Linked DNA regions of Homo sapiens. The main gene of each other region encodes a partner of the protein of the gene in region 3 in a complex. Each region holds a gene or a part of one and is shown on either strand. Other genes may lie near its edges.

Region 1 (7,829 bases), on a different chromosome or scaffold from region 3:
TTTTTATAGTTTATGATACTTTTGTAAATGGACTTTTTTTTTCCCAACTTTTGGGGATCATTGCTCATGTAGAGAAAAACTACCGTTCATTTTATATCTAGCCACTTTAACAAATTATCTTATAATTCAAAAGTTTTTAAGATTTTTTTGGGTTTTCTAGATAGTCACGCTTATCACCAAAAGCTGGTCTGCTCTCTGCTTCCCTGGTGTGCACATCAGTCACGTCACCGTCACGTCACCGTGGGCCTGATGGGGGAGGAGGATGTGGGCATCTTGCTGTGCTCCACAGAAATCGCTGTTTTGCCTTCTCAGAACATTTGTTGTTGGGCTGTTTTTAGGAGGGTGGCTGACTTTTTAGAGGTTTCTTTGTTAGCATCTACTATGATGATTCTGTCCTTTTTCTGGTCCTCCCGGGATTTGTGGATGTGGCCACTACAAGGCCAGAGTGGATGGGTGTCTCCGTGGCATTCTGGGGTGAACCCTGGCCTGTCGTGGCTTCGCCGTGGCCTTCTGCCAGCTCACTGTCACACGTGGTCTCGGTTGTGTGGACTGGCTCCAGCAGGTTTTGCTGTGACAGGTGTGGCCCCTGCATGTTACGAGCAGGGCTGGCTGTGGCTTTGTGGCCTGGAATGGTTAAAATCACAGGGATGGCCAGGCGTGGTGGCTCACACCTGTAATCCCAGCACTTTGGGAGGCTGAGGTAGGTGGATTGCCTGAGCCCAGGAATTCGAGAGCAGCCTGGGCAACATGGCAAAACCCGATCTCTACAAAAAATAAAAAAAATTAGCGGGGCATGGTGGCGTGCGCCTGTAGTCCCAGCTGCTTGGGAGGGTGAGGTGGGGGGATAATCTGAGCCTGGGAAGTCAAAGCTGCAGTGAGCTAGGATCGCGCCACTGCACTCTATCCTGGGCAGCAGTGAGACCCTGTCTGGAAAAAAAAAAAAAAATCAAACGAGTCAGCTGTGCTTAACAGCTGGGCAAAGGCAGCTGGCAGCTATTCGTGCCACTTCCTTGGGGCTTTCATTTCAGGGTTAACGGGCACTTGTTTCCATGAAGGCTGGTATTCTCTTGGCCTCGCTGTGCTGACCTTTTTTTCTCATGCCTAATCACACTTTCCATTCCTCAGTCCCTTAGTGGTCTTTGAAGGGTTTGTCTGTTTTCACTTCACTTTGAAGGGTTTGTAATTGTTTTCAGTTTCTGTCTTTGCTTCTTCATGGTGCTTTTCCTCCTTCCTCACTTTAATCCATGTGTGTTTCTGATAGCCACGTCTGTCATTTTGAGGGTGCATGTTCCCTCTTCACTGCTTGCTGGTTGTTGGTAGCTTCCCTTTCAATTTCTTCTCAGCCAAGGATTGCCTAGGACTGTTGGTTATTTTCAAGTAGGTTGGGTGCGTGGTTTGTTTTTGTTGTTTGGCAGGGGCCAGGGCAGGGAATCATTTTATTATTTTTTATTTCTCTTTGGCTTAACCAGCCTGTGAAACTGCTGACAGATCAGTTGCCACCTTCTCTTTTTTTTTTTTTTTTTTTTTTTTGAGATGGAGTTTCACTCTTGTCACCCAGGCCGGAGTGCAATGGCGGGATCTCGGCTCACTGCAACCTCTGCCTCCTGGGTTCAAGCGGTTCTCCTGGGATTACAGACGCCCACCACCACACCAGGATAATTTTTTGTACTTTAGTAGAGACAGGGTTTCACCATGTTGGCCAGGCTGGTCTCCAACTCCTGACCTCAGGTGATCCACCCACCTCAGCCTCCCAAAGTGCCGAGATTACAGGCATGAGCCACCACACTCGGCCTTCTTTTCTTATTTCTAGTAGTATTTTGTGCTTTCTTGGACAACTGTTGCCAAAGGTTTGCCTATTTTACCGTATTCAAAGATCATTAGACTTTAATTTGTTACAGCTTTGTTTTCCCTTTTGTGATTCTTGTAATTAAAGATTTTCCAGGAGGAGGCCAGGCGCGGTGGCTCATGCCTATAATCCCAGCACTTTGGGAGGCCGAGGCAGGCGGATCACGAGGTCAGGAGATCGAGACCATCCTCGCTAACACGGTGAAACCCCATCTCTACTAAAAATACAGAAAACTAGCCGGGCATGGTGGCAGGCGCCTGTAGTCCCAGCTACTCAGGAGGCTGAGGCAGGAGAATGGCGTGAACCCAGGAGGCAGAGCTTGCATTGAGCCGAGATCGCGCCACTGCACTCCAGCCCTCCAGCCTGGGTGACAGAGCGAGACTCCGTCTCCAAAAAAAAAAAAAGATTTTCTAGGAGGAGCTTGCCTCAGGATGGTTCTTTTACTTTCCTCTTATCTGAGTTTAATTCTGCTTCTAGTTTCCTTCACTGTGTTAGAAATCAGCAAGAGAGGGAACTGCTTGCAGGTCAGAGCTCAGGTCTGCACCGTTGCAGATGTCACATCTGCGGACACTTGTCTGGTGGCCTCGGGTGTGGTCAGACTTGGTGGGCTCAGGAGCGTGTCCCTGCGTGGCTGGGGGGTGCATGTTTGATGCAGTGGAGGTTAAGTCCTGTGTCTCACCAGCCGGGTTGTGGGCTGTGCCTGCCTGCACCACCCTGGGGAGTGCTCCGTGCCGCCAGCGCCGGGACCCACCCCATGTCTTCCATCGTTTTCTTTTCAGCCTCTCTGGCTCTGCCCTCTGAGGGCTTTTTGAAGGCTCACAGCTGGGGTCTGTCGTGTTCTCCTTCATCCTGACAGTCTTTTTTTTTTTTTTCTTTGAGACGGAGTCTCGCTCCGTCCCCCAGGCTGGAGTGCAGCGGCGCGATCTCGGCTCACTGCAAGCTCCGCCTCCCAGGTTCATGCCATTCTCCTGCCTCAGCCTCCCTAGTAGCTGGGACTACAGGCGCCCGCCACACGCCTGGCTAATTTTTTGTATTTTTAGTAGAGATGGGGTTTCACCGTGTTAGCGAGGATGGTCTCGATCTCCTGACCTTGTGATCCGCCCACCTTGGCCTCCCAAAGTGCTGGGATTACAGGCGTGAGCCACTGTGCCTGGCCAATCCTGACAATCTTAAATGTGGACTTAATTCTTCAGGTGGTCTGTTGCGTTCTATGATCTTGTTGCTTTCTAGTTACCATTTTTTATATTTATTTTCATTTGCTTCTCTTCTCTTTCTGCTGGTTTGGAAATTAGATGTTTTACTTCTGGTCTAAGGTTAAGAAGGACATCTATTTAAAGTCCAAAGTTGGCCAGGTGCAGTGGCTCACGCCTGTAATCCCAGCACTTTGGGAGGCCAAGGCAGGTGGATCACAAGGTCAAGAGATTGAGACCATCCTGGCTAACACAGTGAAACCCCGTCTCTACTAAAAATGCAAAAAAATTAGCTGGGCGTGATGGCGGGCGCCTGTAGTCCCAGCTACTCAGGAGGCTGAGGCAGGACTATGACATGAACCTGGGAGGCGGAGCTTGCAGTGAACCGACATCGCGCCACTGCACTCCAGCCTGGGGGACAGAGCAAGATTCCATCTCAAAAAAAAAAAAAAAAGTCCAAAGTTATGAGGTAGTCTCTGCCTTCCTCCCAGACCAGGCTGGCAGAAACTCTCTCCTCGTCTCATGGCAGTGCTGTTGGCTGTTTTAATTCCACCCCATTTCCTTTTTTCTTTTTCTTTTTTCTTGAGACAGACTCTGTCGCCCAGGCTGGAGTGCAGTGGTGTGATCTCAGCTTACTGCAACCTCTGCCTCCCAGGTTAAAGCGATTCTCCTGCCTTGGCCTCCTAAGTAGTTGGGACTACAGGCACACGCCACCACGCCCAGCTAATTTTTGTATTTTTAATAGGGACAGGGTTTTACCATGTTGGCCAGGCTGGTCTCCAACTCCTGGCCTCAAGTGATCTACCTGCCTTGGCCTCCCAAAGTGCTGGGATTACAGGCGTGAGCCACTGTGCCTGGACGACCTGAGCATTTTCTTAGTCCATGTTTATTTATGTTACCCACGTTTCTTAATCCCTTGACTCCTGTTCTGGCTTTGTTGCCTCCTTTCTCCTCAGTCCTTCAACAGGTCCCTTGATGACATGGGGCTGGCTCTGGTTTTCCAGGTGTCCCCTCGTCCCAGCCACCTCCCACAGAGCTGCATGGCCAACCTGGTTCTGGGCACAGGGACCACCTGACAGGCAGTGGGCAGCAGCCGGGGCAGCAGGAAGACCTGGGGACAGCTGGAGTTCCGGGGTCCCCTGGGCAGCCTTGGGGGCTAATGACCTGCCCTGGTGGGCAGCGCAGGGAACCACGTGCACACATGCGTCCGTGGAAGCTGCAGGTTCCCAGAGCTGGCTGTAGAGGGTGGGCAGCTCCTGGTGTGCTCTTAGGCAGGCCAGGTGCAGAAGGTGCCATGCTCTCCCTAACCATCCAGCCCTCCTCCCCAGCTTCATCACGTTTCGCTCCTGTGCCTACCTGGACAAGAAGCATACCATCTTTGGACGGTAAGGGAAGCGGCTGTGTGAAGCCTGGGGGGTCAGTGGGCTAGGTGGGTTCCTTCCCCACCTGAGGCCTCCTCACTGCCTTTTTCGTGGACCTGAGTCATGTGCCATGCTGGCCATCACTGCTGGGGGTTGAGGCTATGCAGAGCTGCGATGGAGGGTGCTCCATGTGCCAGGGAAGTCTGGCTCTCTAGACCCACCGGGCTCAGGAGAGGAGGAAACTCGCCCATGTGGCCTGGACACTGCCCTGTCTCAGACCCAGTGGCGCGCCACTCGCAAGCCTGGCCACACCCAGCTCCCTTCACCCTCTAGTCCAGGGGTCTTTCCAGCGTTGTGGGCCACGTGGTCTCTGACGCCCACCCAGCTGTGTGGAAGCAGCACGAAACAGGGTGGACGCAGGTGATGTGGTTCTGGCCAAGTGGAACTCTGTTTACCAAACCAGCGGGGAGAGCACAAGCCACGTTTTGTGACTCCTATTTTTCCTGTGGGTGGGGGAAACCAAAAAAAAAACAAAAACAGAAAAAAACCCAGCTGGATATGCCCAGGGCCATGGTCAGCCGACCCCGCCCTTGCCACTCCCTCTCATCGCCTTCCTGGCTGCTGCCCAAGGACCACCAGGCCAGCCTCGGGGCTCTCAACCCCTCTTCCCACGTGCCTTGGGGCTCAGCCGTGGGGGTGCCCTCCTTGAGCACACGCAGACCCACCTCTGTCTCCCTGCTGCAGGGTTGTTGGGGGCTTTGACGTACTGACAGCCATGGAGAATGTGGAGAGTGACCCCAAAACTGACCGCCCTAAGGTCTGTGCCCAGGGAGGTGGGGCGTGGCGGCTGGGGGCCAGGCAGGCAGGGGGAGGACCTGCCGTGCACTGAGCCCCCTTTGCTGCTAGGAGGAGATCCGCATTGATGCCACTACAGTGTTCGTGGACCCCTATGAGGAGGCCGATGCCCAGGTGAGGGGGCACGATGCCACCACCTAGGAGGGTCTGGGCTAGTGCACTTTTCCACCCCAAGCCTAGCATCTGTCCTGCCCGAGGTGCTGCCGGTTAGCCAGCGCCCTGTTGTGCCACAGATTGCGCAGGAGCGGAAGACACAGCTCAAGGTAGCCCCGGAGACCAAAGTGAAGAGCAGCCAGCCCCAGGCAGGGAGCCAGGGCCCCCAGACCTTCCGCCAGGGCGTGGGCAAGTACATCAACCCAGCAGCCACGTGAGTGCCGCGGGGCTGGCCTCCCTGTTTCCCATGGTGTTTCCTAGGGCTGACTGAGGTCTGAGGGTCAGACCCAGAGGGGCAAGCAAGCTATGGGCACTGGTCCCGGCCGTGGGCTTGTGCTGTGTGGCCTCTGCAGCCGAGGGACTGCCTCTGAAGGCCTGGCCGGGGCCTCTGTGGGTGGAAGAGATCAAATTCAGGGGGATGTGGGAGCAGCAGGTGGGAGGGGTTGGGCCTACACCGGGAGGGCTGTATGGAGACACAGACAAGTCAGGAGGGGCTGAGGGAGGGTGTGGGCTCCCAGCGGCTTCTTCTCTTCCCAGGAAGCGAGCAGCAGAGGAAGAGCCCTCAACCAGTGCCACTGTCCCCATGTCCAAGAAGAAGCCCAGTCGGGGTTTTGGGGACTTCAGCTCCTGGTAGCAGCAGGTTGGCCGCTGTGGACCTTGGTGGGGTTGCAGGGCTGGGGGCCCATGTCCACATCTCCATTTCCAGCCTTTCTAGCCTGCCCTCTGCTGCCAGCCAATAAATTGCTTGCCTGCTGCCTGCATCCCCTTTCCTGGCCCCTGGGAGCCCACAGCCTTCCCATCCCTTAACCTGTTGCCAAGGGCCTTGGCCCTGTTTCCAGGACCTGGCCCAGCCAGAGCCCACTGCTGGGACCTTCAAGCACAAGGCCTGCCCTACACCCAGGCTGGTGCCTCAGGCCTCCCCTCTAGTAGGCAGGCCAGGTTAGTGAGGAAGGACTGTGTCTCCAGATTGTGGTTTCCTCTTTAAGACAGGGTCTTGCTCTGTTGCCCAGGCTCCAGTGCAGTGGTGTGATCATGGCTCACTGCAGCCTCGACCTCCTGGGCTCAAGCAATCCTCCTGCCTCAGCCTCGCAAGTAGCTGGGACTACAGCCGTGCACCACTACATCCAGCTGTATATGTCTGGTTTTCTTACCCCTACTTCTGTCATCTTCTCAGGGACAGCCTATTTATACAACCAGTGTGGTCCCCTGACCAACGCCATTACCTGGGACAAGTTTTCAGACCCCAGACTTACTGAGCCTAAGCCTCTGCAGGGTGGGCTTCTCGGTCTGTTTTGACAAAACTTCAGGGGCTTCTGAAGGCTGGTGTTGGACGGCAGCATTGAGTTTCCTGCCGTGCCCTGCCTGAGCTCTCAGGGCCCTGCTCACCTGCTCTGGCTGTGAACCACCTGGGCTTCATCTCAAGCCTGCCTGGCGTCTCTGTGCCCCTGTGAGAATCTTGAGGGGACCCACACTGGGTTGAGGCCAGTGTCTCCTGCTGTGAGAACAAGTGGATGTCCCTCTCCCCGCCCTCCTGCTGAAGTGGCCTTGCTGCTCTCAGGCCCGGCCACTGGGCTCCAAGACTCTGCTCCTCCTGTCAGTCACTGACTCTGATGGCCTTGGGCCAGCTGCATCAGCAGCCCTTAAAGAAAGACCCCTCCCTCAACCCCCATTTTTCTGTTAAATGTGCCCCTGGCTGGCTTTTTCTTCGTCTTCAGCCCAGGCCAGTGGTCAGTGTTCTCATGTCATGGACTCTCCTTGCCTGACACTTGCCTCTTGGGCTCCCTGTTGCCCTCAGGCCACCCCCCACTTCTAGTTCTTCACACTAAGCCCTAACTTAGGCCTTGTTCTTGGTTTTCTCATTTTTGTTGCCCCAAATCTTGAACCTGTCAGCAACTTGCAGGCTGTACCTCTGCCCTTCCTTTTCTCATCAATCACTGATGCTGAAGCTGCAGGCCTGAGCCCTTTGTCTCCCTGGATGCTGGGTGGCGCCTCATCTGCATCTCTGCCTCACCCCATCCACTGCCACAGGCTGCCTGATGACCACTAGAGGTATGTCTGCCCCTCGTCACCCTGCTGCACACCAATCTGTGGCCCTTCATCATGCTAAGAACAAGAACTGCGCCATGGCTGGCTCCTTCTCTTCTCCAGCCCATCCCTCTGCAGCCTGTCATCCCTGTCTGTGACCATTGGTCGGGCCCCTGGGCTCTAGAGTGACTTTTGACGCCCTCCATCCCTCCCGCCAGGCACTGTCCTCCGCAAGGCCTGGTGCAGCCCTGGCAGTAACTGGCTTGTAAGAGGCTCAGACACCAAGCTGGGCCTGCAGAGGAGGGGCACAGTAGGACACAGTGACTGCCCAGGTGTCCACACACCTGTAGGCCTCTGAGCCAGCGTCCAGGGTACAGGTGCGGGTGGTGGGGATGAAGG
Region 2 (7,829 bases), on a different chromosome or scaffold from region 3:
CAAAGTCTCATTTATGCAGGATGAGTAAGTTCTGGAGATCTAATATACTGTATGTTAACTATAGTTAACAGTACTGCATTGTATATTTGAAATTTGCCAAGAGAGTAGATCTTAAGTGTTCTCACCAAAAAATTTAAAAAGTAACTATAAGAGATGACTGGTAAGTTAATTAGCTTGGCAGTAGTGAATATTTCACAGTGTATATTAAAACATCATGTTGTATGTTTTATACAATTTTTATTTGCCAATTGTACCTCAATAAAGCTGGAAAACAGTATGTCAGGTCATTACTCTGCTCAAAACCCTGCAATTGCTTCCCTTTTCACTTGTAGTAAAAGCTTTATCTTTAGGTTAAAGGGCCATACATGATCTGGCCACTACTCTTCCCACCTGCCCTAACTATTCTGACACCTCATCTCCTACTTATCCCCTTCTTTCTCATACAAATCCAGTCATATTGGCCTGTCTGCTCTTCCTTGGGCCACACTAGGCATACTCCCATTTCAGAGCCATGTACTTGCTGGCCCTTCTGTGTGGGATGCTCTTCCCCCAGAAATCCACATGGTTTGCTTCCTTACTTTCTTCAAGTATTTCTGCTAACAGCACCATCTCAGAAGTGAGGGCTATTTGACCACTCTCACCTTCTGGCAATTTTATATCCTCTTTCCCTGTATTATTTTTCCTCCACAGCAATTATTACCTTTTACTATACTACATGATTAATTTCTGTCTGTCTACACTCACCAGAATGTTGACTGTTATATCCCATCCCCCTACCCACTGTCTAGCAAAAACACTTTGTGTCTAAAAGAGAACCTTGCACACAGCAGATGCTCAATATGAACTAAATAAATGAAAGAATGAATAAATGTACCAGGTAAGAATTTAGTAATGAAAAAAAAATAACCACCCTCACAAAATTTCTTGAATTATACTTAGGACTCGACTTCCCACTCTAATTGAATTAATACACCAATGTAGACCACTAAGTAAAGTCAGAGAGAAAATACTGGCAGATTTAATGATGAGAAATGCATTGGAGCCTACAAGATAGAAAAACTCTGGATTACTTCACCATATGAGGGAGCTGAATTATTCTGTTAGATACCTAATTTCTCTTAAGTTTTGAGATTAAGATAAGAGAAAATCAAGCCTATCATTTGAGTAATAATGCAATTTTGAAAAGTACACTGCTCAGAAGTTTAAAAATTTCTGGTACAGTCCCAAACTGAAGACCCACTTTTTTCTTATCTCCTGTTGCTTCAGCTTACTAAGGCAGAGATTACTCTCCATTTCTACACTATATCTGATGTATCTAAATTTTGTTTATATGTACCTACTTTATATGCAGTAGGAAAAAGATTTTCTAAAATAAGATATATTTTGTTCACCAAGCAAAATTCAATTCAGTAATGAGAATGTCATACCTTTTTCCACATGAGTTTTGATCCCAGCTCTTCTCTCCCTGGCTTTCTGGGCCATTTCTCTAAGTTTCTCTTCATGTTTTTCCTTTTCTTTCTGAGCCATTTTTCTCTCTACTTGGGCACGCATTTCCACAGCTTCACGAGCCTGTTGGTAAAGTCACATGTTAAACAGGACACTATCATGGGATAAATATTTATGGCTATCATCCAACTCCCTAACATCTGGCTGGTAAGAGCAATTATACAGAATTCAGATTTGTTATTGCTAATTAAAACAAAGAGTCTTGTCCACTAAAAGATATCCTGCCTGGAAGACACTGCAAGGTCAGCTTTTTTCTCTGGGAATATTTTAGTGATTGAAACTATCGTGACCCCAATTAATCTTGTAAGTCAAGTATTTCACTAATGCTTTCTCAGAAACAATCTAAAGAACAAAATTAAAGCCAGGCATAGTGGCTCTCTCCTGCAATCCTAGCACTTTGGGAGGCCAGGGTGGAAGGACTGCTTGAGCTCAGGAGCTTGGGACCAGCCTAGGCAACATAGTGAGATCCATCTCAAAAAAATAACATTTTCAAAATTAATAACACTTTCAAAGTTAATCAAGTCAACTCAAGATAAAATCTTAACTTACATCTGCTAGATAATTTTTATAAGGGTACTCACTGTGATACAAAAGACATTTTTTTTATGTTCCAAACACATGCTATGATGCATGTGAACTTCAATATCACATATTAATTCCATAATATTTATATTTACATATATTTTTTGAGATGAAGTGTCTTACTCTGCTGCCCAGGCTGAAGTGCAGTGGTGCGTTCTTGGCTCACTGCAACCTCCACCTCCTGGGTTCGAGAGATTCTCCTGCCTCAGCCTCCCAAGTAGCTAGGATTACAGGTGCATGCCACATCCAGCTAATGTTTGTATTTTTAGTAGAGATGGAGTTTCACCACATTGGTCAGGCTGGTCTTGAACTCTCAACCTCAAGGAATCCACCAGTCTTGGCCTCCCAAAATGCTGGGATTATACACATGAGCCATTGTGCCCAGCCTAATTCCATAATATTTAATACATTATGTAACATTAATAGATGGCCAATGCTATGAACGCCATTTTATGTACTATTCAATTCATTAGAATGTTTATCTGCCTTTTCCTGCAACTGCCCTTTTGGGGGACATCTACATCTAAAATAGAGGAAAATTTGAAATCAAAAATTATGAAACCTAGCAATCTTCAAAAAATGGGATCATCCTAGGAAACCATTATTCTGACATGTTGTGAGGGAGCCGGATCACCACTGTGGGGTGTATGTACACATCTACAAAAGCTGGGAGCATGCAGAGAGCTGCCAACTAGCAGCTGCCATTTCTGACACACGTACCATGGGTGAGACTCTCTTTGGGTGCTCGGTACTATAGTTAAATTATCAGTACCTTAGGTAACCAAGAATGGATTTTAAAAGTAACAAGAGCATTAAACAAATTATAACAAACCAACCTTCCGATCAGCAATGTAGAGGGCTTCTGCCAATTTGGCGAAATTTTCATTTATGTGTACTGTCTGTAGTCCTCTTCCATCAGCAGCCAGACGTTTGTCTAATGGAATTGTATAACCCTAGAGTGAAAGCAGACAGAAAACCCAGTCACAGAAGTGCTTCAATTAATCGTCTGAAGTTAAATTAATTTTATTTTTTTCGAGCTGGAGTCTTGCTCTGTCACCCTGGCTGGAGGGCAGGGGTGCCATCTCGGCTCACTGCAACCTCTGCCTCCTGGGTTCAAGCGAGTCTCCTACCTCAGCCTCCCGAGTAGCTGGGACCATAGGCGTGCGCCACACACTCGGCTAGTTTTTCTATTTTTAGTAGAGACGGAGTTTCACCATGTTGGCCAGGATGGTTTTGAATTCCTGACCTTGAGTGATCCGCCCTTGGCCTCCCAAAGTGCTGGGATTACAGGCATGAGCCATCGAGCCTGGCTAAAATTAAATTTAAATATGCCCACATTTTGAGAACCACTTAACTGGAGGTTCTTTTTCCTTGCATCTTTCTTCACAATGATGCAAAACAACAGCAGCTATCAATGAGTGCTTTATGTAGAAGATCAAGCACTTACACCTATGGTCTCATTTAACCTTCACGATAACTCTATAAAGCTTCTAACATTATTGTGTCCATTTCACTGATGCTTTGGTAACATCCCCAAGGTCATACAGTTAGTAAGTGGGCGATTAGGATTTAAACTCAGCAGGATTTCAGAACCCAAGCTCTGGAAAAATAGATATTTGTGTTAATAATTGTCGATTTTAATAAAAGGAAATCACTGTCAAACAGTTCAACAGTTGCTCCTCAAGTAAATTTAACAGTCAAACAAAGGTAGAATCACTATAATCTTAGCATCTATAGGAAGTTAAATCTGCTGTACTGTCTTAATGATCTGTTATATTCTTAGAATCCTGAAGTTTTAGTAAATAGAAAAAAAAGGCTGGGTGCAGTAGCTCAAGCCTGTAATCCCAACACTTTGGGAGGCCAAGGCAGGTGGATTGCTTGAGCCCAGGAGTTCAAGACCAGCCTGGCAACATGGTGAAACCCCGTCTCTACCAAAAATACAAAAAAGTAGCCAGGCATGGTGGGGCACACTTGTGGTCCCAACTACTCGGGAGGCTGAGGTGGGAGGATCGCCTGAGCCTGGGAGGTTGAGGCTGCAGTGAGCCATGATCATACCACTGTACTCCAGCCTGGGCAACAGAGCGAGACCGTCTCAAAAAAAAAAAAAAAAAAAAAAAAAACCAAAGAAAAAAGAAAAAAAAATGTTTGCTAAACAACTGAATTTCTACATTCTAAAACTTTGCATCCCATTTCAATAACTCAAGAACTGTACTTGAATGTCTATGTAACTTTCAGGCTTAGCTTTATTTTCCAGATATCTGACTAGTCTCTCAAATGTTGACTTTTAGTCCATGGTCTCATAATAAAATGAAGCATTATAGAACCAGCTCAAGATACCATCCAGTTACAAAATACCAATCAACTCAAATCAGACCAGTCGGCAACCTCTTTGTTTAGGGTGAGTATATAAATTCTCTTAAGAAACCTGAAATGGTCTTCTTTATCCATCAAAAATAAAATCATGAACTATGATTCAGGGAAGATGAAACAGTAACTAGCAAATCTATCCCACAATCTACAGATTCTTAACAACTCCTAGAAACTTTGGCAATTATTAGAGATATATAGCTTAAGCCTTCACTACTACAGAGCCCAGTAGTTGAATATTAAAGCACTTAAAGTATCCAAGCATTTACTCTGTTCTTTTGTCATATAATCTTTTACATCAGTTTACTTTCTTTTAGAAATAATTTTTAGATATAAATTTGAGTTTTCTAAATACCATCTTGTATTTATATGACACTTTATTCTACTTATTCCTTCTCTATGTGCTTCTGCTAGCTACAATTCACTAAAAGAACTGATATGGGGCCGGGTGCGGTGGCTCACACCTGCAATCTAAGCCCTTTGGGTGGCCGAGGCCGGCGGATCACAAGGTCGGGAGATCAAGACCAACCTGGCCAACAGGGTGAAACCCCGTTTCTACTAAAATACGAAAAATTAGCCGGACGTGGTGGCATGCGCCTGTAGTCCCAGCTACTCAGGAGGCTGAGGCAGGGCAATCGCTTCAACCTGGGAGGTGGAGGCTGCAGTGAGCTGAGATCATGCCACCGTACTCCAGCCTAGTGACAGAGCGAGACTCCGTCTCAAAAAAAAAAAAGGAACTGACACGGTATTCACGTGCCTGGCATACTAACATTTCTATTACATTAAAAAAGTCACCAAATTGGGCATTCCTTTTTGAAAATGCTCAGTTAAACCACGTGTTGTTTCAACTACAGTTATGCAGGCTGTAGTTGTTTTACTGGTGTTTTCCAGTAGGTTATACTAATAGAGACTGATTTGACAACTTAATTACCTTTGCATTTTTCCAGTTAGAAATACAAGGAGGAATCTTCCACTCTTGTTGTTCCTTTACAGTCATCTGAGAGAAGAGGGAAAGAAGAGACAAGTTTAGATTTATAGTCTACAAAGTAAATCTAAGTATAATCTTTATCTTCAAAGACAGCTCCATATACACTGACATATGCACAGCCGTAGTAAAAGGCCAGCAGTCCATTTGTTTGCTAGCACTAGTTTACCATATAATTCTAGTAATAACTTTGAACTAGTGTGAAAAATGGAAAATAATCTAGAAATTATTCTTGACAGTTATAAATGTTGGCTAGTATTTTTCCATATTTAAAGTGATGTGACTTTTTTCTTTTTTTTATTGAGACGGGGTTTCGCTTTTGTTGCCCAGGATGGAGTGCAATGGTGCAATCTTGGCTCACCACAACCTCCGCCTCCTGGGTTCAAGTGATTCTCCTGCCTCAGCCTCCCAAGTAGCTGGGATTATAGGCATGCGCCACCATGCCCAGCTAATTTTTTTTAAAGTAAAGACGGGGTTTCTCCATGTTGGTCAGGCCGGTCTTGAACTCCCGACTTCAGGTGATCTGCCCGCCTCGGCCTCCCAAAGTGCTGGGATTACAGGCGTGAGCCACCACGCCCGGCCGATGTGACTTCTTTTGGATGAAAAATTGTTCTTTTGATTAACAAAACATATCTTAAAAAGTCAAATTACCAGGGACCTAATGAACCCATATATTCACTTCCTATAACATCCTTAAACTGAAACAGCAGACCCTGTCCATTCCATTAAAAGTAGGGTTTGCATTACTAATAACAAAACTTACAGCTAACATGTTATATACATTCTCATAAGCATTCTTGAAACTTCATCTTGAAAAATAAAAAAAGAAACTACAAGTCAGTGTGGTGACATGCACCTGTATAGGCATAGGGAGGTTATCTATAAAATTAATAACCATGAGTAGAAAAAAATATTTTGGACTACAGCAAAGAATACCTTTCGGCTAGGAGAATGCATGACAGGCGCAGGAGGAGAAGGTGGTCCCCGGGGAATTTTCTTATTAATCCTGAAGTATAAAAACACAACCAGAGAGTGATATAGTTTCCTCCCTTTTAGTCATCATATCAAGTCTCTCCTCCTTTTTCTTGCATAAAAGTTTCAAACATAGACAAAAACAGAGACTGTATAATGATATACATTTACCACTCCACTTTGACAATGAATAAAACATGGCCAACTTTGAAACTGTTACTCACCCCACCTCCACAACATTATTGTCATTTTGCAGAGTAATATACTTTTTTCCACTTTAAAAAGCAGCTTTAGGTCGGGTGCAGTGGCTCATGCCTGTAATCCCAGCACTTTGGGAGGCCAAGGTGGGCAGATCGCCTGACGTCAGGAGATCGAGACCATCCTGGCTAACATGGTGAAACCCTGTCTCTACTAAAAATACAAAAACTTAGCTGGGCATTGTGGTACACGCCTGTAAACCCAGCTACTCAGGAGGCTGAGACAAGAGAATCGCTTGAACCCAGGAGGCAGAGGTTGCAGTGAGCTGAGATCATGCCACTGCACTCCAGCCTGGGTGACAGAGCGAGACTGTCTCTCAAAAAACAAAAACAAAAACAAAAACAAAAACAAAAAAAGGCAGCTTTATTGAGATAATTGACATTTATTAGCTATACATATTTAAAGCATACGATTTGATTAAATTTTGACACAAATATGCACCTGTGAAATCATCATCACAAGCAAGATAGTGAACATGTCTATCATCCCCAAAAGTTTCTGCTTGCCCCTTGCCTATTCCTCTTGTCCCTCCCATCTCCTCTCTGTCCCTACCTCCTTCCCCAGAGGCAACCACCTATCTACTTTCTGTAACTATAGGTTAGTTTGCATTTCCTGGAGTTTTAGATAAATGGAATCATACTGTATGTACTTGTTTTTGCCTGGCTTCTTTCACTCAGCATATTGTTTTGAGATTCATCCATGTTATTGTGTGTATTAGTAGCCTATTCCTTTTCACTTACTTGAACCTTGGAGGCTCCATTGGATCTTTCTGCATTTCTACCATCCGAATAACCCTCTGTTTAGCTCCAGAGTTGAATGCCACTCCTTGCTGAGATGGTGTGTATCTGAAGAAAGCAGATAAAAACTAAAGGTGTAATTAGTTCAAGCTTTCAGTAGGTATTTTCCTTCTATTACAATCTTAAGCTAGACTACATTTTCAATTCCTTTCGCAAAGTATTAACAGAAAATTAACAAAATATTTAGACAAAGCAGACAGCAAGAGGGATAAAAGAACATAAATTATGAGTTACAGTCAAAATATAAACTTGAGTGGTATTAGTTTGCAAATAACCCATCCTCATATGTTTTCCAACATGGAAGGTGCCGTGTTCAGTTTCACAGATAAGCAGTCTAGAAAATAGTACCTATTTAGTATGCC
Region 3 (8,283 bases):
CTATGCTGCCTCCACAGGGATCTTGGGAATGGGTAGGTGGTAGACAATTTCCACCTTGGCAACGGGCCTCTGTGAAATCATTCCCCACTGTTCCAGATCTTACCCTCCTAACATGCTGAAGACCGATTTATGGTTGTTGCTTGATGTGAACAGTAGGAACTACCCACCAACTTACGGGGTGGGAAACACAGGACATCATGAACCTTGTGCGAGCCAGAAAGAGGCAGATGTGTGTATCGGGGTGGAGAGGTTCATGAAGGTGTGTGCCTGCGTAGGCCCCCATTTCCCTTTTCCTCATAGCCTTACCAACTGTGCTGTCAACTTATTACATAAAAATAGATGAAAAGGCATGTCCTTTTATCAATGTGGCTGCAGAAGAAAAAAGCAAGAAAAGGAGATCATGTTGGGCAGGGGTGCTCTGCTATAGCAAATTCTCAAGGAAGGCCTGGAAGAAATGAAAGGAACCAGGAGAATATCAAGGGGAGAACATCTTTGGCAGTGAAAACACCAGCTGTCAGGGCCCTGTGGTAGGAGAGTGAATGAGGCATTTCAGAAATAGCAAGTGAGGTCCCTGTGGATTCAGCACAGTGAACAAGAAACAGAATAACAGGAGATAAGGTCAGGGATACATCGTAGGCCAGATCATGCCACATCTTCCAGGCCATTGTAAGGATTTTTGATTTTAGTCTGAGATGGGAAGCCACAAAAGAGTTTCTGGCAGAGACTGGCATGATCTGACTTATGACTTAGGGGCTGTATGGAGGATAGATTCTAGGAGCAGAGTGGAAGCAGTGTTTTCAGATAGGAGGCCACTGCAGCAGTGCGAGTGGCCACCAGTGACTAGGAGCAAGATGGTGGAAGCAGAGGTGGTGAAAAGTGGTTGGATTTGGGAAAGAATTTGAAGGTGGAGCCAAAAGAATGTGACGAAGGATAGGACACATGCTGTGAGAGTGATCAAAAGGAATGAAAGGTGGTTTGAGTCCCTAGTAAAAAGGAGAATACGGGGGATGAGCAGATTGGGGAAGGAAGAAATTGTGATTTAGTTTGAATATATTGAGTTTGAGATGTCTATTAGATATCTTCATGAAGATAATGAGGAAGCAGAAGACTATATGGTCCTGGAGTTTAGTGGAGAAGACAGGGCTGGAAATACACATTTGGGAGCCATCAGCACATAGGTGGTATCTAAAGCCATGAGATTGGGTGACAGCATGCAGGAAATGAGGGTAGATTGAGAAGAGGTCTCCCACCACCCTGCCAGGATCCAGCCATATGTAAGTTCTAGGAGCTCTGTGATACTGGGAGGAAACCCCAGCCAGGAACAGAGGCAGAGTGCCTCCCCCCACACTCCCAAAATCCACGATGTAAAAGCTTAGGCCTTCTCCCAGCCACTGCTCCTACTTTCTTACCTTGGGGGTAGTATGGCATTCAAGATTTCTTCTGCCTGCTTTGTAGGATCTGGGACACAGGGAGTTGAGGGGAGCTTGGTCTTGGGTGGCTGTGGGGCTGAACCTGAAGGTCCAGGCTGCTGGGGGCTGACTTTCAGTAGCCGAGCCTGAGATGAAGGCACAGGTGAGGGCAGGAAATTGTTCAGGAGCTCAGCTCCACACATCCCCAACCTGTATATTGCTCCAGGTCTTCTGCACAGCCCTCCCCTCTTCCTAGCCTACTTTGGGTCGGTCTTCTCAGCAGAAATTATGTCACAGAGCTGAAGGAGGCCATGAAGTCTGGCCCCAACTCAATGCTTGAACAGGTGTTTCTGGCGCATGTGCTTTCACACCTCTGGTGATGGGGAAATCACTACCTAGTCATCTGTTCTTGGACCCGCGTACCATTAAGAAGAGTGAGCCCCATCCATCTCCCTGTGACCTCCTTCCCCATCCTAAATCTGCCCTCTGGGGTCACACCCAACATCTGGGCTTCCTATACAATCCTCTCACCCTCCTTCTCTGACTTCCCAATTCCCTTTACTCCCAGTCGCTGCAATCCCCGTCCCTTGAGATTCCTGACCCTCCATGCGGGAATGTGTCTTTCCCTATCGGAGTTTCGAGGCTCCTTTGTCTCCCGAGCCCCCGTCTTTACCTTGGGGCTCCGTTTCTCCGTGTTCCGGCTCACCAGCACTGGGGTGTCGTACTTGAGCAAAGAGTCTGCGGGCGGAATCATGGCGGAGGCGAGAGTAGCAACCCAGCAGCTGCCCTGTCCAGTGTGGGCCTTGTTTGCCGTCACCATGGAAACCGCCCCCTCACTCCCGCCCCCGCGCTTCTTGGCCTGGGCGGAGCTTCGAAGTGGGGCGGGGCCAACAGCCGGCAAGTTTCATTCTGTGCCTCCTGGGCAGAAACCTCTTGTGCCTGACTTCTTAGGCCTTCTGCTCACCGGTTCGTCCCTGTACTCTTGGAGGCGAGGAAAACGGCAGTTCGAGTCCCTATGCTCCGTCTAGCTAGCGATTTGAAGTGGGCAGATCACCTTTGCCATGCTCCAATTTTGTCACCTGAAAAACAGGAGTCATCTCCTGACTTCTCATGAAGGGTTAAGGGACAATTCCCAAAGGAAGTCATCTGGAGTTCCTAGGTTTTTTGAAGGTTTTTTTTGTTGTTGTAGTTGTTCCCAAAATGTGTTCATTGAGATTGTTTCCCACTCATCTTGATTCAGAGTGCTTTTAGTGCTGCTTCCTCCTGAAGGAACATCCTTCTGTAAGCCTTACTTTTCCTCCTGTAGGCTGGCAGAGGACAGTGGAGCAGCCAACACACAAAACTGCCGTTTGTGCATGGCTAAAGACTGTGGTGATTTTATAGCATCCTGGGCATTTCACATCCATGAAGTAGGAATTGGGGCTCTGCACCAGGCGTTTCTTCTTGTGTTTCCTCTTCTCCTCTTCTGGGGAGGGATGAAGGAGATCCTTTGCGAGAGGCATGTTCTCGTGGGTAGGTCGTCACCGCAAGAAAGGGCTTGTTTTGATTTTTAAATTGAGACGGAGTCTCTCTCTGTTGCCCAGGCTGAAGTGCAGTGGCGTGATCTCGGCTCACTGCAACCTCCGCCTCCCGGGTTCAAACGATTCTCCTGCTTCAGCCTTCTGAGTAGCTGGGACTACAGGCGCGTGCCCCCATGCCCGGCTAAATTTTGTATTTTTAGTAGAGACGGGGTTTCACCACGTTGGCCAGGCTGGTCTCGAACTCCTGACCTCGTGGTCCGCCTGCCTCGGCCTCCCAAAGTGCTGGGATTACAGGCGTGAGCCACCGCGCCCAGCCTGAAGTATTTTTCTAATTAAATGGAGAAATGACAAAGTAGGAGCCAATGGGAAACCTCCCCTTTGCCCCCTGAAGATTCGCTCAAAAATCAATTCACAAAAGGCAGATTAATTGGAGAAAAGGCATACAAATGTATTTAAAATGTATACACGGGGAGAATCACAGTATGATTACCCACCCCGAAAAGGGTTCAGAAGCTTATATACCCTCCTGGTAAAACAGGTTTGTGAGGGTGGGAGAAGGAGGAATTCTGTTCAGGGATTACTAGGCAGAATGAATGAATAAGGGAACAGAGATAAATTTGTAAATAGTTTTTTGTGTTTTTTTTTTTGTTTTGGTTTGGTTTTTTTGAAGACAGGGTCTCACTCTGTAGCCCTGGCTGGAGTGCAGTGGTGCCATCACGGCTCACTGCAGCCTCCAACTCCTGGGCTCAAGCGATCCTCCTGTCTCTGCTGGGACCACAGGCACGAGCCACTAGCCCCTGCCAAATTTAATTTTTTTGTAGAGACAGTCTTGCTATGTTAGGCAGTTTGGTCTCAAACTCCTGGCTTCAAGCGATTTTCCTGCCTTGGCCTCCCAAAGCGCCGGAATTACAGGCTGCAGCCACCGTGCTCGGCTGTAAATAGCTACTTTTGACAGTATAAGGGTCTCTGGTCAGGTGTGATTACATTCTTGGGTGGAGAAGAAAGAAACAATTATTCCTTTTGGTAGTCTGGATCTTAGGCAGATAAAGACCTGTGCTTTGGGAGAGATGATGGGCACTGGAAAGGAACATTGAGGCTTCTTCAGTTCAGCTTGTCAGTGAGCCGTATTTTGGGGTTTTGGTTTCTGAGCCCCAACAGCATTGCAGAAAGTTCAGGAAATAGAAGAGGAAAAGCTAATGATTTGAAAAGCTAATGATTTGCCCATGGGTTATCATCTCTGATTGCATTTCCATTTCTTCCTCCCTTCTATTTCCAAATGTAAATGTAATTATAGTTTGCACACAATTTTGTATCCTGCTTTATCGTTAACAAGTCAGGGTTTTTAAAGTTTGTAAATGGTTTACTAATGGCCACATAACACCCATTAATTTGGCTAACTTCCCTACTGCTGGTATTTACATTGTTTCCACGTTTTGTAATTACTAATAATGTGGCAACAAACAGCCTTGAGAGGTTTGCTTTTTCCCAGTTTTTGTTGTTGTTTGTTTTTGAGACATCTCGCTCTGTTGCCCAGGCTGGAGTGCAGTGGTGAGATCCCTGCTCACTGCAACCTGCGCCTCCAGTTCAAGTGATTCATTTGCCTCAGCCTCCCGAGTAACTGGGATTGCAGGTGCGCGCCACCACACCCGGCTAATTTTTGTATTTTTAGTAGAGACGGGGTTTTGCCATGTTGGCCAGGCTGTTCTCTAACTCCTGACCTCAGTGATCCGTCAGCCTCGGCCTCCCAAAGTTCTGGGATTACAGGCGTGAGCCACCACTCCCAGCCAGAAGTTTGTTTTTGAAACTTGAAACTCCCGCCACCCAAGCCTGTCGCTGCGGCCACACCCACTAGGGAGTAGTCACGTGTTTAACCTTTGCCGCGAGGATTTCTGGGAGCCTGGGCACCCCGGAAGCGGAAGTCCAGGAGTTAAACTCGTCATTTCCTCCAGCTAGAGGAGCTCAACTGATCTGTTTTCTTTCGCCCAGCCAAAATCACAGAATGAAGGCGGTGAAGAGCGAACGGGAGCGAGGGAGCCGGCGAAGACACCGGGACGGGGACGTGGTGCTGCCGGCGGGGGTGGTGGTGAAGCAGGAGCGTCTCAGCCCAGAAGTCGCACCTCCCGCCCACCGCCGTCCGGACCACTCCGGTGGTAGCCCGTCTCCGCCGACCAGCGAGCCGGCCCGCTCGGGCCACCGCGGGAACCGAGCCCGAGGAGTTAGCCGGTAAGTGGGGGAGCAGTCCAGGATGGACATTGGGTTGGGCTCATTCAGAAAGGCGGGCAGGGCTAGCGTCCGAAACAGGTTTTGAATGGTGGGCGCAGCAGCCCGGACTTAATCCTGAGGGGCTGTTGAGAGTGATCCAGTCGTGCTTGTGTTATGCTTGCTCTGTCACTTGCATTATAGCTCGGTGTTCAACGCCTAATGACTAACCGGCAGGATCCCACTCCTTCATTCTTGTGTTCCTAGCACTTCGAAGAGTGTGGCCCAACAGATAGCACTGATAATCTGTTAAATTGGATTGAGATTTTCCCCATCCCTCCCACAAATGGAGTGTGGGCGTTGTCTTTCCGGTTACCTGCCAGAAAGGTTTTCACATCGAGGTCTAAGCGAGCTACCTAACAGAAACTGGGGAAAAAAAAAAAGTTACTTCTTGCTAGACTCATTTATTTATGCATTCATTCACCATAGTTTTACTGAGTGCCTATTAAGTGTTAAAGACTGCCCTAGGTATTGGGGCTGCAAGGGTGATTCAGTTAGATGATCTTCACCGATGCCAAATTGGCTATGCTCTAACCCTGAGACATGATAAAAAAATAAACAAAATAGTTTCAGTTAGTAACAAGTATTATTGATAGATTAAAACAGTAATGTGATAGTGAGAGATTGGAGAGAAGAGGGAGGAGGACTCTCTAAAGAGGTGCCATTTGAGCCCAGACCTGACTGATAAGAATGATCCAACCTCTTAAAGATCCAGGCAGAGGAAACAACATCTGCAAAGAACCTGAAGTAGAATGAATTATGATTGAAATGGGAAAAAGCCAGTGTCGGTGGATTATAGTGGTCAAGAAGGTGGGTGGTAGGAATGAGATGGCACAGGGAGGAAGTAGAACCACAGGATGGAGGGATTGTTATTGATGGTAGGGGTGTTGGTAGTGAAGGATAAAGAGTCAAGGGTGACTTACGGATGGTGATGCCAATCAGCGAGATGGCAAGGAGTAGGAGAGGAAAGGTTTTTGAAGGGTTGGGAATTAAGAGTTATGTTACCTAAGTGAGAAGGTTCAGTAGACAGTTGTCTATGTGAGTATGGAATGCAAGGGAGATGTTAGGGCTAGGAAAGTGAACCTCGTGACTCCTTTAATGTGACCGGCAGAGACCTTCACAAATGCGGTGTTTGTGTTAGTAGGTAAGCCTGATACTGGAAGCTAATTTTTATGGGGGAAGGGAAATTGCGATAAAATCCTGTGTACCATGCTCTGAATAGGTCCCCACCCAAAAAGAAAAACAAGGCCTCAGGGAGAAGAAGCAAGTCTCCTCGCAGTAAGAGAAACCGAAGTCCTCACCACTCAACAGTCAAAGTGAAGCAGGTAAGTGGATTGGGGTGTTTTGATGGGTCCAAATTGAGAGCCTTTTCCTATCACAGCTAAAGAGGAATGTGTGTGTGTGTTGTGTGTGTGCACACATGTGCACGTACGCTCGCCTACATCTCTACTTGTACCTCCGATGGGCTTTTCTGAAAACTGGCTGTATTTATTTTTTCTGCTTGTTTGCTTAAATTAAACTTTTTATTTTGAGATTATTATTGGTTCACATGCAGTTGTCAGAAATAATTCAGGGAGATATACTCTTCCTGGTTTCTCCCAGTGGTAACATCTATTCATAACAGAACTGTGGTACAATATCATCATCAGAATATTGACATCGATATAGTCAAGATAACATTTCCTTCACCGCAAGGAATACCTCGTGTTGTCCTTTTGTAGCCAAACCCACTTATCTCCCACTTTTATCCTTCCTTAACTTCTGTCAACTTCTAATCTGTTCTTCATTTCTATAATTTTGTCATTTCAAGAATGTTATGTAAATGGAATCATACAGTATGTAACCTTTAGGATTGTCTTTTCTCACTCAGCAGAATCCTTTGGAGATTGATTCAGGTTGCATCTCTCAGTAGTTTGTTCCATTTCATTGCTGAGTGGTATCCAAATGGCATGGATTTAGCCACTTACTCATTAAAGAACATCTGGGTTGTTTCCATTTTTTGGCTATTACACATAAAGCTGCTATATAGACATTTGTGTACAGGTTTTTATGTGAACGTTAAGAGTTCATTTCTCTGGGATAAATGCTCAGGAGTACAATTGCTGGATTGTACGGTAGTTGCAGGTTTAATTCTTTTAAGAAATTGCCAGACTGTTTTCCAGAGTGGCTGTATTAGTTTACCTAGGGCCACCATAATGAAATACCATAGAGTAGGTGGCTTAAACAACAGAAATTCATTTTCTTGTAGTTATGGGGCTAAAAGTCAAAAATTAGGGTGTTAGCAGGTTTGGAATCTCCTGAAAAAAAATCCTCTGTCCTTGGATTGCAGATGGCTACCTCTTTGCTATATCCTCAAATGATCTTTCTTCTGTCCTGTTGTCTTTTCTCAGCCATATTGGATTAGGGCCCTACCCTCATTTTAACTTAACCAGCTCTTTAAAGACCTCATCTCCAAAAAGTTATTAATACATTCTGAGGTACTTGGGTTTGGTACTTTAACATGCTAATTTTGGAGGGTACAATTTAGTCCGTAATAGTGGCTGTATCATTTTATATTCCCACCAGCAATGTATGAATGATCCGGTTTCCCTGTATCTTTATCAGCATTTCAAGTTATCACTTTATTTTAGCCATTCTGATAGGCGTGTAGTGGTATTTCATTGTGATTTTAATTTGCGTTTTCCTTTTTTTTTTTTTTTTGAGACAGAGTCTGGCTCTGTCACCCAGGCTGGAGTGCAGTGGCACGATCTCGGCTCACTGCGACCTCCGCCTTCTGAGTTCAAACGATTCTCCTGCCTCAGCTTCCCGTAATTTGCATTTTCCTAATGGCTTATGATATTGGACATCTTTTCTTTGTGTGTCAGTGTGTGTGTGTGTGTGTGTGTGTGTGTGTGTCACCCAGGCTGGAGTGCAATGGCGTGATCTTGGCTCACTGCAATCTCCCCTTCCCAGGTTCAAGTGATTCTCCTGCCTCAGCCTCCTGAGTAGCTGGGATTACAGATGCCCACCACCACGCCCAGCTAATTTTTTGTATTTTTAGTACAGAAAGGGTTTCACTATGTTGGCCAGGCTGGTCTCAAACTTCTGACCTCGTG
Region 4 (7,829 bases), on a different chromosome or scaffold from region 3:
CAGAATAGATATAAGGGTGCCGATTCTCTAAGGAGAGAAACTAGGAAGCGTTTTGGATTTGTATTTCCCCTGAGCTCTTTTTTCAAATGAACAACTAGAGACATTGTTGAGAACACATTACTAGGAGAAGATCCTACTATATGTAAACTTGTTGAAAATTATTCTGTTAAATATCATTCCCCAGTTTAAATATTAAGCACTCAATAAATACATGTGTAGGTTTAACATCCAAAAGTGATAACCAGCTTTAACAGATTCCAGATGTTTCCTTACCAATAGAAGCAATACCACACGTTTTCAGTAAAATTATACTTTGAACGGCTCATTGCTTAAAGGGCTGGTGGGCTAGTCTAGTTTCTGATCCTACTGCTTAAATGGAAGAATGACCAAAGGATAATAGAGTACTTCAAGCACACCCTGATGAAAACTCATGTATCAAGAGTACACATTTTTGAATAGATAATGATATCACACTGACATCCTATCTGGCTGGCAGCTATACCCATTATAACTCAAACTGAGCAGTGACTTTCCTTTAAATATAATTATCCCTTTTACCACGTTGTAGTTTTTCAGTACATTTGGAGCTTTCCTGTGTTGTTTTATTTTTTAACCATAAAGTTAACTTCAGAGACTCGCTGGTATAAATAACCAAAAGTACTAATGATTTGGAAATTTATTAAAATTTATTTTTATTTTTTTAGAGACAGGGTCTTGCTCTGTTGCCCATACAGGATCATAGCTCACTGCAGCCTAGAGCTCCTAGGCTCAAGCAATCCTCCCACCTCAGCCTGCTGAGCAGCTGGGATTACAGGCATGAGCCACCATGCCAGGGTCTGATTTTGGCAACTTTATGAACTGAAAAAAATACGTGGTCATGAGACAATCATGGAAATTTCTACACTAGAGGAAAAAACTGTTTCTTCCTTTTGAAATTCTGTACTTTCTCCTCTATCCTGACCTTATTTTTCTTTTGTTTCTCTTTGTAGGTAGGACAGATAGGATGAAGGAGGGAGAGTAGAGAATGTGAATAATGAAAATGTGGGGGAACAGAACAGTTATAAATAAATGTGTGCTGTCTGCACCATTTACAAAGGCACACTTTGCCAATTATTTTACCTAAAAGAATCCAACAATGTCCACAATACTCATGTTTACCTAAAATATTCAAGCCACCTTTGGAGACTTCTTATTTAATTTACTTTTCTAAGTAGAAAAGTATTTAACGTACTTTTTAAATTTATTTAATTTTCTTAGTAGACTTGCAATGCACTTGAATATAACTTTTTCCTCTACAGTGAATATACAAATTATGTGATTTTAATTTTGCAAATTATACTGATTTATAAAAAGAGAAAAATTGTTTACATAAGTAAGTGGATATATATGTTCCTATGTAAGAAATTACCATAAAAACTAAGCTTTAAATGTCTGTTAAGTCATCCAGTCTATGGTATTTTGTATAATAGCCCAAAACACTCCTCTATCAATCCATTCTCCATACTAAATACAATCTCAATATATCATTTGCCTGTAAAAACTTCAGTGGCTCTCCAGTATTCTCATGATAGATCAGATTCCTAAATCTAGCTATCAATGCCATGTTTGGTCATCAGGCCCATACTACAGCCAAGGAAATCTTTTAAGAATAACCCTTAATTGTAAGAGTGAACACAATTTTGGAAAATGCAAACTTTGACTTTTCTTAATATTAGGTAAACAATTTTTTAAAGACACTTATGAAAGGTACATTAAAAATGAACTTTAGTTCTTATACAAAATTTAGCATTGCTAAATTATAGTTTATATTATAGGGTATATAAGTATTTGAAATTGATTAAAGCCTACAAGACTGAGTTGGGAGTTTAAGGAACACTTAAATCTAACATAAATAAATATTTGGTTGGCTCATCTATTAAAATTTTTAAATATATTTTTGTTACATTATAAACCTAACCTTTAAAAAAATTCATAATTTTTTAAAATCAGAAAACACATGCCTTGAATGAGAGGAATAAAACATTATGTATCCATAATTATATTCATGATTTAACTAAAAGTTACAGTGTGAATGAGAGGTTTTTCAACTCTATGAATCTAGAAGCATGCATATGATCACTAAAATCTTTAGTCTATATTAGCTACTATGTATGGTATATATAATATAATCTAGTATGTAAAATTATTCAACAGTGATTACTTGAGTGTCAGGTGAATATTGCTGGAAAAAAGACATTTAAGATGACTCCTAAGTACCATTTCTAAATGTTAAAAGCTATGCTTTTAGTGGAAATTTCTGGGAATCATTTTTATTTGATTACATAAAGAAAAAATTGAGGGAGCTATGCAATGATAGCGTGGAAATCCTTTTTAAGTTTTTCTACATGTGGTTGAGAAACATGATAGGGAAAAAGAATGTTATTTAAATGTAGTTACATTCATATTATCCCCAAATAGTATTTGAAGAAAACAAATACTATTGTTTTTTAAAGCAATATTATTTAAAATGTATACTATAAAGTTGAAATAGAATCACAAAAGAGATAATTTTTCAATTAAGTTGAATTTCAGGAGAATAAAATGTTGAGTCATAAATCCAACAAACTTTCATCACCAGACAGTAAACTTTTCACCATTTGCTGAAATTTATTTTATGATACTACTGAGCTTAGGATAGGTATATGGTATTTGGTAAATCAGACTTGAAAAGATATTTAAGAATGTTTTCAGGCTCACTCATTTTCTTCATCAGTTTTGACAAATTTTGCTTACCGAAATTATTTGAGGATGTCTCTTTTCTTTCTATACAATTACTCTACTGCTCTCATTGGTATTTAACAAATGCATTCTTCCACATCTAGCTAATACATTATTACCCTATATATATGAAAGTATAGAGCCTTTCTAAAAAAGGATCAGAGAGAAATAAAATGGAATTGAACTCATAGGATCATTGTTATGTTTACTTTAAGCTTGGTGTATTTTATTTTAGGCCTGCTAATGGGCCAATTTGTACAACTGTTATGTTTATCAAACATTATGAAAATAGTATTTTAAAAATTAGCTGAAGAGAGGATTCAATCTGAATTAAAGTGAAATATAAAAAGACAAAAACTCTGATATCTAGCACAGTAACTGACTCACCTGCGGCTGACTGATTTCTTCTCCACTTCTCCTTCTCCAGCTGATTTAACATTCGCACTTGTGTCCTTTTTTAATTTTTTGGCAATTCTTTCTCTCATCAGGTTCTTTTCATCACCATCAATATATTCATCATGCTCTGCACTTTCATCTTCTCCATCCTGTAGAAATGGAAAATGAGTATTTGCCAGGTGCTCAATTTCCCCTTTCATTTCTAGAGATCTATTGCATCCACTGAATCTCCTTATTGCATTCTAAACTAGGTTTTTTTTTTTATTTTGTTTTCTTTTGTTTTGAATTATAAGCCCTTGAAGAATCTGCTACAGGTGGGAATAGCCCTGGGTTCTGCTCTAAGCCAACTATGTAATTATGGGATACCCCAGGAAAGGCTGTTCGCTCAACTCATGCCCAGCTCCTTTGTGCAGCAGACTTCTCCCTCTGTGTCACTCGGGCTATTCTGTCTATATTCCTATTCTTATCTCAGTGGGAAATGTGGCTTTTGAAGGCAGTTGGCCAGCATACTGACCTCAACAGGGATCAATTCAAGTAGAAGAGGTGTAGTGCAGAAGCTGAGATTTCTATAATCCAAGTCACAGCAATCACTTCTCTTGTGAAAACCCTCTAGTGGGTCCCCAACTCACTCAAGGCCCTATGCAATCTAAACCTCCCTGACATAATCTCCTACAACTCCAGCCCACCAACACTAGCCAACTTTGGAGTTGTTGTTCTCTCCAGCCTGAAACAAATACTCTATTCCAGATATCTCTTCATTGCTTGCTCTTTCATCTCCTTCAGATCTTTGCTCAAATGTTACCCTCTTGGTGATGAGATTAACCTATTAAAATGGTAGAACCACACACTTACCTCCAGTACTCTTTCATCTTCCCTGGCTTATTTTCCAAAGTACTTATCACCTATCTGATACACCATATATTTTAATTATTTGCATGTGTATTGTCTGTCATCCAATTACAGCAAACACTCCATGAGAGCTAAAATTCTGGCCTGTTTTGCTTACTGCTGTATCTTCAACTCCTAGAATAGTGCCCAGCATTGACAGATGGAGGAACAAAGGGAAGAAAGAGGGGAGAGAAGAAGGAAGAAATAACCCCAAGTGGATCATTTTTCTTTTGTGATTCTTTCTTTGATCTGGTGAGTCGTAGTGAAGCAGGATTCTTAATTTGAGACTTGTGGACCCCTAAAGCACTGGTCCTCAAAGTCTGGTCCTTAGATGGTATTACATAGTTGTTTATTAACACCTAAAATTCTAGCCCTCATTGCAGACTTATTGAACCAAAATCTCTGGGGTAGGAATTACGAATGTTTTCAACAAGATGTTTAAGTAATTCTTAAGCACTAAAAGGTGACAACCACCAACCTAGGCCTTCCATGCTCAGGCCTCAGGAGATCTAAAAAAAATTCCCTGCAAATTCATATAATTTTGGTTGTGAATGTAGTACATTTTCCTGGGAAAGGATTCACAGTTTTAGTCACTCACCCATGATATTAAGAGCAAATCTATACTTTTACTTTCTATCCTATACATTGATCCTAACTTCTAGACCCATATTATGTTACACAGATGTCTCCAAATTACCTCAATCTTGAAATGTATAAAATTAAGCTCATTATTTTTCATCCTTTTCTCCACCTCAACCCTATGCTTTCTTTTGCACCCATCTAACAAGTTGCTCAAACCAGAAACCTTGTGGTTGTCTTGGACTACTCCTCCCTCACCTCATAGTGTAGAATCAGTCACCTCCTAGACCTCTTTCAAATCTACCTCTTTCCCATCTCACAGCTGTGGTCTTATATCAAGCTCTCCTCCTACAATAGCTTCCCAGTATCAGTCTGTTTCCTCTAATTTGTCCTCTATAATATCGCCAATAGTGATCTTCCTGAAATGCAAAATTGATCATAGCATCCTTCTTTTTAACAAACACCTTTCAACTGTTCCTCACTTCCTTTTAGGAAAAAACTCAAACCCCTCACCATGGCCTATGAAGCTCTGTAATGAAGCTCTGGCCTGTCACCACACCCTGTTCACGCTGGCCTGCTTGCAGCTCTTAGAACACACCAAACTCTCCTGCTTCGGACCATTTTGTATATGCAGTTCCCCTTACCTTCAATACTCTTCTTCCTTGCTCTTCACAAGACAGACTCCTTGAAACTTTAAATTTCCGTTTGTATTTCCTAAATAAGGTATGATCTCTCCTTATTTCCATGCTTTAGCATATGCTATTCTCTGAGCTAGAGGGACCTCACCCCCTTCATCACTTTCTTTTCTGACTTAGCTAACTCCTAACTCTCATATAAGACATAAATAGCATCATCTCTTCCAGGAAGCTTTTCTTGACAAGGTCAGATATTCATCCTCTCTCTATCTACTACTGATAGCCATAGAGAGCCTTCTCTTTTGACTGTGATAATAGATAAATCTGTGTTCATGCATGGAAAGTTATGTACTTCCTAGTAAATTATACAATGCACAGATTAATGGGTTTTTATATAAAAAGTGGCATATGTATAATTTGAAAAACTTGACTCTTATGTATTAAAGGAAAATCTTCCTTCTGTTTTGTTAGCTTTGTTAGCCACTACAACTAATAAAGATCACTACACTCTTGAATGAGAATCTTTTGAAATGTGTATATAAAAAGGAGACACTACTATAAATTACTGATCCAAGCATTTCCCATATATCATGTAGGATGCCCACACACCAATATTTAAACTTTTAATACAATAAATTTATAACATCTGAAGTTTGAGTATTAACGTAATGTTATGTGAGGGGGAGAAAAAAACAGACTAGAAATTCATATATAAGATTCTAATGTTGTAGAGAGATATACACACACACACACGCACACCCCTAGAGTAAGGAAATAGTCTAACACCTAAATAATTTCTGTTTTTCATATTTTTCCAAAATTTGACATATATAACTATAAAAGTAATATACGTTACTTTTTAAGAACAAAATTAAGTTTTTGTAAAAATTTTGTACTTTCTATGAATTGTTCAAACTATATTAATACCAAAATAAATACTTACATCAACTAAATCTGGTGCATCACCTTTTTCACTATAAAAAAAATAAGCAAAACAAATTTTAGTTTCAAGGTAAAACTAACACAATTATTTTGTAACCCAAAAATCTAGAATAGTTTGCTGGGAATAACATTCCAAAAATGTATTTCAACATAGGAATTTAAGAAAGGCATTATAGAACAGATGGAAACATTCTTTAGAGTCATTTTTTATAAGTGGAATAAGTATGATTCATTAGCAAATATATGCGTTCACTAGAATTTGAAAGGAAAAAAGCAAACAACAACCGACAGTGTTATTTTTATGATCAATGGTCTGCAAAAAACAATTTCTTTTATTGGCTTGAAATATTCTGACTAAAAAAACCCCCAAATCCTTCAAATAGAAGGGTATTAAGAAAAGATTGTCTTAAAACAGGAGTTTCGAAAATGAGCTAAACTGAGTACAACAGCATTGTAGTGCCCCTTGAGATACTGGCCCAGTTTATCTTGTGCTATTACATCTAACACCAAGACGTTTTCCCTTCTCAAAGAGAAGCAACAAAGGTAGCAAGACAACTTTCTGTTAACTCCTCAAAGTATGTGAGAATTTATAGTCAGTGGACTGGCCCCCAAACTGGTAACTTCTTCACAAAAACCTTTAACTGTAATTTGTTCATTCATGATACAATTAAGGCAAAAATGCTTCAAGGAAAAGGTAGCAAAACAACCTTGAATTAAGCATTACACTGTTAAAGCAAACAGTTTCTAGTCCTAACATGTAATGGTAAAACAATTTTAAATGTAATTCATTCAACAGAGGTAGAGAGCAAGTGCGAAAGTGACTAGAGCGTTTGTTTCTCTCTATCAAGCTTGAAGTTCTCTATCTCTGTTATCAAAATGCTTTATTTTTTTGGCTGGCTTAAAAATTTTTGACTTATGAGGACTGACTGTTTACTCACAGAAGAAGCAAGAAAATTATCTGAGCCAGAAAATTAAGAACTTAGGATCATACCAACAATGGACTAACCTTTCTACAACTGGAACAGAACTGAGATGTGGATCATCCTTAAGCAAGTCATGACTACTTTTGCTTTTGCCCTTCATGCTCTGCAAAGAATGTACAATATAATCATGAGGGGGGAAATAAACAGTATTCCTAAATAACAAGTTAACAAATTTACATAAAACCTAGCAATGATATAATATGGTTAGCAAAAGATGTATTCCTGAAAAGTTTAATACAAACTAAAGTTTTATAAGTAAGAATCTTACTCTTCTATTGACTGAAAATAGTATTTTAGAAACACCTTTTCTTTCAAAAAATGATATATCATTTAAAAGAAGTCTGTTGAATTACCAACTTGAAGCACTAAATTCTCATAATAATTTGCATACTATGAAACTAGTTAATTTTTATGACCCCTATAACTTAGAAGCTACATCACAAGAGTATTGAAATAAATGCATGCTATTATTCTTCAAATATGCCACCTATACTGCACAGAATCACTTTTTAAAATGTTACTCAAGCAAAAGATAAGTGCATCCCCGAGGAACTACTTACCAACAACAACAAAAAAAGATATAGAAGAGCCTCTTGAGCATGAGAATATTTATCAGTGACCAAATATTTATTAAATGCTTTAATTTCAA

The links.
Region 1: SNIP1 (region 3) and PPIL2 share a complex: the UniProt entries of both Homo sapiens proteins name them as parts of the minor spliceosome.
Region 2: SNIP1 (region 3) and SNW1 share a complex: the UniProt entries of both Homo sapiens proteins name them as parts of the SNARP complex.
Region 4: SNIP1 (region 3) and CWC27 share a complex: the UniProt entries of both Homo sapiens proteins name them as parts of the minor spliceosome.

What each region holds. Positions count from the first base shown.
Region 1 is NC_000022.11:21,689,452-21,697,280, forward strand, and holds part of PPIL2 (RING-type E3 ubiquitin-protein ligase PPIL2), read left to right. Parts: intron 1-1,933; coding exon of another isoform or gene 1,934-2,042; exon of another isoform or gene 2,043-2,727; intron 2,728-4,364; coding exon 4,365-4,421; intron 4,422-5,141; coding exon 5,142-5,214; intron 5,215-5,303; coding exon 5,304-5,366; intron 5,367-5,485; coding exon 5,486-5,619; intron 5,620-5,942; coding exon 5,943-6,039; coding exon of another isoform or gene 6,040-6,145; 3' UTR 6,146-6,415; coding exon of another isoform or gene 6,416-6,701; 3' UTR 6,702-7,433; coding exon of another isoform or gene 7,434-7,588; 3' UTR 7,589-7,829. UniProt on the Homo sapiens protein: Has a ubiquitin-protein ligase activity acting as an E3 ubiquitin protein ligase or as an ubiquitin-ubiquitin ligase promoting elongation of ubiquitin chains on substrates.
Region 2 is NC_000014.9:77,729,561-77,737,389, forward strand, and holds part of SNW1 (SNW domain-containing protein 1), read right to left. Parts: intron 7,516-7,829; coding exon 7,411-7,515; intron 6,447-7,410; coding exon 6,377-6,446; intron 5,453-6,376; coding exon 5,387-5,452; intron 3,042-5,386; coding exon 2,925-3,041; intron 1,570-2,924; coding exon 1,428-1,569; intron 1-1,427. UniProt on the Homo sapiens protein: Involved in pre-mRNA splicing as component of the spliceosome. As a component of the minor spliceosome, involved in the splicing of U12-type introns in pre-mRNAs.
Region 3 is NC_000001.11:37,550,875-37,559,157, reverse strand, and holds the start of SNIP1 (smad nuclear-interacting protein 1), read left to right. Parts: upstream 1-4,864; 5' UTR 4,865-4,928; coding exon 4,929-5,152; intron 5,153-6,410; coding exon 6,411-6,513; intron 6,514-8,283. Other genes in the region: DNALI1 (axonemal dynein light intermediate polypeptide 1), read right to left, coding at 1,410-1,555, 2,083-2,163. UniProt on the Homo sapiens protein: Required for pre-mRNA splicing as component of the spliceosome. As a component of the minor spliceosome, involved in the splicing of U12-type introns in pre-mRNAs. Down-regulates NF-kappa-B signaling by competing with RELA for CREBBP/EP300 binding.
Region 4 is NC_000005.10:64,799,702-64,807,530, reverse strand, and holds part of CWC27 (spliceosome-associated protein CWC27 homolog), read right to left. Parts: intron 7,284-7,829; coding exon 7,204-7,283; intron 6,230-7,203; coding exon 6,199-6,229; intron 3,303-6,198; coding exon 3,145-3,302; intron 1-3,144. UniProt on the Homo sapiens protein: As part of the spliceosome, plays a role in pre-mRNA splicing. Probable inactive PPIase with no peptidyl-prolyl cis-trans isomerase activity. As a component of the minor spliceosome, involved in the splicing of U12-type introns in pre-mRNAs.